Regions from separate parts of the Homo sapiens genome. Here region 2 is linked to region 1. The links come from fine-mapping of genetic effects on gene expression. Tissue or cell type: thyroid. Region 1 holds a variant in brackets; the other region holds the start of a gene. All regions are shown on one strand. Distances are between the middles of the regions.

Evidence for each region. PIP is the estimated chance that this variant, and not a neighbour inherited with it, causes the effect.
Region 2: LY6H starts here. The variant in region 1 is fine-mapped to the expression of LY6H in thyroid (GTEx, PIP above 0.99). The same link has a PIP of 0.9 or more in lung and sun-exposed skin.

Annotation. Positions count from the first base shown.
Region 1 is chr8:143,190,028-143,192,633 of GRCh38, reverse strand. It overlaps LOC107986906 (a long non-coding RNA gene), which reads right to left and starts at 1,075. Exons shown (of 2, transcript XR_007061137.1): 1 at 861-1,075. The variant C/T (reference allele first, on the strand shown) is at 1,165.
Region 2 is chr8:143,159,073-143,161,678 of GRCh38, reverse strand. LY6H (lymphocyte antigen 6 family member H) reads left to right here and starts at 1,358. Exons shown (of 4, transcript NM_001135655.2): 1 at 1,358-1,481; 2 at 1,970-2,097. The coding sequence starts at 1,480. It overlaps LOC124902035 (a long non-coding RNA gene), which reads right to left and starts at 1,810. Exons shown (of 2, transcript XR_007061136.1): 1 at 1,693-1,810; 2 at 1-882.

The DNA of each region.
Region 1 (2,606 bases):
ATTAGCAGCGTGAAAACGGACTAACACACCTGTCTACATCTCTGTGTTCCTGATTGTGTGAAAGCATCTTTCTATAATTTGATGGGATATTCCTAACAAAGGCCATGTGCATTTGGTTGTTTTGGTTTTAGGGTTCTTAAAGTCTCCCTCTGTCTAAGGCAGTCACCCCAGCCTGCTCTTTTGTGATGCTGGCCTCTAGGGAGAGCAGTCAGCTCCATGTAGATGTTTCCATGTAGGAATTTGCTGTCCTTGGACTTGCTTCTCCAGCCTCTGTATTTCCTGTGTGGCTTGATTAGATTCATGTTCAATTGTCTGGGGAGAATATTTTACAGGAGGGCTTTCTCTTTTTTTTGAGACAGAGTCTTGCGCTCACTCAGGCTGGAGTGCAGTGGTGCGATCCCAACTCACCGAAGCCTCCACCTCCCAGGTTTAAGCAATCCTCCCGCCTCAGTCTCCCAAGTAGCTGGGACCACAAGTGTCACCACCCTGCCTGGCTAATTTTTTGACTTTTTGTAAGGATGGGGTCATGCTATCTTGCCCAGGCTCAGGAGTGCTTTCTGCCTCCCGTTGCACCACGTCATGAGGCATATAAGGTCTGGTTGTCTCTGTTGGAGTGAGCTGGGCTGGGCCAGCAGGTACCGGTGGTAACGCTGCTCCTGATACGTTTCGATCAACAGATGGGCAATGTCTGACCGATCCCAGTGGCCGAGAAGGCCTGTCCCATCATCCCAGCTCAGAGCCACCTGGAAGGGTACTCCCCACCCCTGCAGAGTCCCTGTGAGGTCTTCCAAGCCTGACCTTGAGGCTCAGTGTCTCCGCCGCCCAGTCCTTCCCACCCCTTCCTGCACTCCCTGACCCACCTCCAGCACGGGCCTTCCTGTCTCAGGGTCCACTCCTGGGAGATCCAAGCTGCTGCCCCGTGCCCAGGTGACATAGTTTGGGTTTGTGTCCCTGCCCAGATCTCCTGTTGAATTGTAATCCCCAACGTTGGTGAAGGAGCCTGGTGGGAGGTGATTGGATCATGGAGGCAGAGCTCCTCCTTGCTGTTCTCGTGATAGCGAGCGAGTGCTCTCCAGAGCTGGTTGTTTGAAAGTGCGTGGCACCTTCCGCTTCGCTCTCTCCTCCTCCTCCTCTCTCTTCCTCCCTCTGGCCACAAGCTGTGCC[C/T]GCTTCCCCTTCACCTTCTGCCATGATTGTCAGTTTCCTGAGGCCTCCCTGGCCCTGCTTCCTGTACAGTCTGTGGAAATGTGAGTCAATTAAACTTCCTTTCTTTATAAATTACCCAGTCTCGTGGGGTTTTTTTTTGTTTTGTTTTTTGTTTTTGTGTTTTTAGACAGTTTCACTTTGTTGCCCAGGCTGTGGGGTGCAGTGGCACGATCTCAGCTCCCTGCAACCTCTGCCTCCTGTGTTCAAGTGATTCTCGTGCCTCAGCCTCCTGAGTTGCTGGGACTACAGCCGCCCGTCACCATGGCTGGCTTTTTTTTTTTTTTTTTGTATGTTTTAGTAGAGACAGGGTTTTACCATGTTGCCCAGGCTGGTCTTGAACTCCTGAGCTCAGGCAATCTGCCTGCCCTGGCCTCCCAAAGTGCTAGGATTACAGGCGTGAGCCACCATGCCAGCCTCAGGTAATTATTTTAGCTCTGCACGAATGGATGAATATACCAGGTTTTTGTAACTTCCTTCTGGAGTCATCATGAACTCATGGCTCGGCTATGTTCAGTATGGTTTCATAAACTGCAGTCATTATTTTTTCTAAGACATTTTATTTATTTAGACAAATAAAAATTGTATATATTGTGTACAGCAAGTGGTTTTGAAATATGTGTACATTGTGGAATGGAAAATTGAGCAAATTAACATATACATTACCTCATATACTTAGCATTTGAAGCGAGAACATTTACAACTACTCTCAGCAATTTTCAAGAATACAATGTTTTTCTTAATGGTAGTCACCCTGTGAGACAATAGAGCTCTGGAACTTACTATACTGACTTTGGATGCTCAAGTGCTCCCATCTGCAGTGGGCTGAGTGGTCCCCACAAGGTATGTCCGAGTCCTAGCCCCAGGCACCTGTAATGTGAGCTCATTTGGAAAAAGGCCTTTGTCCTTAAGTTAAGGGTCTGGGGATGAGGTCATCCTAGATTTGGGGTGGTCCTAAATCCAACGGCAAGTGTCGGTAGAAGAGAGAGGACGAGGAGGCCACGTGAAGACAGAGGAGGGATCAGAGGATGCGACCACGGCCAGGGCGGCCCACCACCTACAGCCACCAGATGCTGGGAGAGGCCAGGAAGGATTTCCTTGAAGAGCCTTCTGGTTGCTTGAAGCTGGGAGTTGGTGATAGTTTGTGATAATTGGTTACAGCAGCCGCAGGAAACGAATGCAGGGGGACACTCGCTGTAAGAGGAGGGAGGCGGGGACCTGGGAGGGCTCCTGTGCTCCCCCGCCCTGGGCAGGCACCAGAGTGCTGTCCCGCTCACACCCAGACCTGGTGAGGAGGTGGTGGCCCAGGGACAGCACTCTCCAAAGGCCCTGACTGGGGAGCTTAGGGGAGACACGCCCTCCCCTTCTCCTCTGCTGTCCTCCTCCAGTGCCAGGGATCTGGCACC
Region 2 (2,606 bases), 31 kb after region 1:
AAGAATTGTGTTTGAACCTTGATCTAGCTCTTGCCCTCTGCACCTTATGAATCTCAACTCCTCATTCAGTTCTCGGCTAAAGTATCAGGTCCTGGGAGAAGCTCTCCCTGACCCTGAGGCAAAGCACGCTCCTGTGGTGGTCTCTTGTCCATCTCGTCCTTGCCTCCACCCCTCTGGAGCCACAATGGAGCGGAGGTGTGCAGTCCCTGTAGCCCAAGCTGCTTGGGTTCCCACTTCAGCTGGGTCACCTGTCACCTGCGTCACTGTGTGACCCCGAGCAGGGAGCGCCGCCTTTCCGTGTGAGTCTCCTCATCTGTGAGATGGAAATGATACTATCTGCACAGCAGGGCTGTGGTGAGACTATAAGGAGATAATAAATATGAAGTGTCTAGAACAGGTGGAATCCATAGTACATGCTCAATAAATGTTAGCTCTGTCACATCCTGCAAAGATATGCTGCAGTAGGCATCACCATTTGTCCAAGGGGAGAGTCAGGAGGGCAGAAACCAGGTCTCTCTCCTCATGCCCTTTCCCAGGGCTCAGGGCAGGGCTAGGGCAGCAGGGAGCATGCAGTAAACATTTTCAGGTCAAATGAAAGGGAGCAGGACCAAAGGCACGATGGCAGATCGGGGCTTCCCCAGTGCCCCGGGGAGGCGGATTTCAGGCACAGGGACACGTGCAAAGGCACAGCTTTTAGGGAGCTGGAGGGCAGGGCGGGAAGGCCAAGGAAGCCGAGAAACGGGTCCAAGGCTCGGATGCTCTGGCCAGGATTTGTACCTTTACCTCCGAGTGTGGGAGTATTTGGCGACAGAAGCCCCTGGGGCTGCGGCTTCTGGTGGGGGTCTTCATGGATGCTCAGGGGAGGAGAACGGCCTGGAGCCACTGGAAACGGGGAAACGGGGAAACGGGTATGAGGTTGGGGAGGGGCGGGGAGGAGGGGGAGGGCGGGGCCCCAGGGCGGGAGTCTGACCCCAGGGGTCTGCGAACCCGGACCTGCGCGTGGCGCCGCGCCGGGTACCTCCCCCTCTCTGCGTCTTTGTGCATTTTGCTTCCTTTCGCAGTAAACGTTCTTCCGAGAAATTCCAAGGGGATCTCAGCCAAGCAGAGGGGGAAGGGATCCTGCCCACGCCTGGGTAGGGGGCCGCGGAGGCTGGGGAGGAGCAGGGGGCGCCGCGAGGGAGGGAGCGGGAACCCGAGGGAGCGCGCGCGCCAGCAAGGGGGCGCGGAGGGCCCGGGCCAGCTACCTGCGTGGGGGCCGCGAGCCCCGGGCGCCCCCCGCCCCGCGCGTCTCCCAGCCGCCCCCGCCCCCCGCGCGGCCCCCGCCCCGGCTCCGCCCCGCCCCTCGCGCGGGGTCCGCGTCTGCGGCTGCGTTCCCCGAAAGACGAGGCTGCGCCCGGATTCCGGTCCGCAGGGAGACCGAAGGGCACAGCTCCCCGCGCCGCGCACGCCGCCCGAGCCCGGAGTGCGGACACCCCCGGGATGTGAGTGAGCCCCCCGACCCCGAGGCCCGCGCTCCACGCCCCATCCGCGGTGAGCGCCGAGGCGCGCGCGGAAGGCCAAGGGAGGGGACTCGGCCCGGGGTTCCCGGCCCCCCAGCCCAGGGGTGGGGGTGGGGACCTGGCACGCGCCCCTCCCCCCAGTGGCAGGTCCCACCCGCTCCCGCCCCTGCCGCTCATTCCTGTCCGGACGCACCTGCAGCTCCCCGGGGAGAAGAGGACGCCCCCCATCCGCTCCCCCACACAGGTGCCGGCGCGGGGCGGAGGCGTCTCGAGCTGTCACCTCGCCCCAGAGGCCAGACGTCTCCCGGCGGGGATGCTGTGACGGCGGACGCTCTGGAGAAGGGGCTGGGGGTGGGGCTCTGCGAGCTCCGGGCGGACCCCGGCCTTGGATTCCGGGGAGAAGGTTGCATCCTGAGGCTGGGAAAGGAGAGGGTCTTTGGGGTCTCCTGACCGATGCTTCTCCCCTCCAGGCTTGCGCCCCAGAGGACCCGCGCCCCAAGCCCCCGCGCCGCCCCCAGGCCCACCCGGAGCATGCTGCCTGCAGCCATGAAGGGCCTCGGCCTGGCGCTGCTGGCCGTCCTGCTGTGCTCGGCGCCCGGTGAGTAGGGGGCCCGCGGGCTGGGTCAGGTGCCTGGGAGAGCCCGAGGCGCCGCGGGAGAGCCGGGTGTGGGGCTGCCACCCTCTGACGGTTCCCACCGCACTTCGCATAGAGCCCACGCCCCCTCCGGGACCCCTGCGACCCCAGCCCGGCCCTCGGCCCCTCTGCCCCGGCACTGGGCTCTCTCCAGCGCTCTTCCTCCAGGGCCTGGAACTGGTGGGCGGCTGGCCCCGCACGGAAGCCCTTGGTCATCCGTCACCTCTGAGAGCCTCCCGGGCCTCCTTTCAAATCCAGTTTGGTCCTTCACAGCTTGGAACCCACGGACCTCTGGGGGGGATATGTGAGGCGGGGCGGGAGTGTGAGGGGGGCACTGTCGGTGTGGGGTCTGTATAGCCCGTGTGTGTGTTTGTGTGTGTGTGTGCACGCACGTGCATGGGGGCCAGGGAGGGGCCATAGGGGCTCCCCTCAAACTGCCAGGATGGGGCACAGTTGTCCCAGGGCCTCTGCTC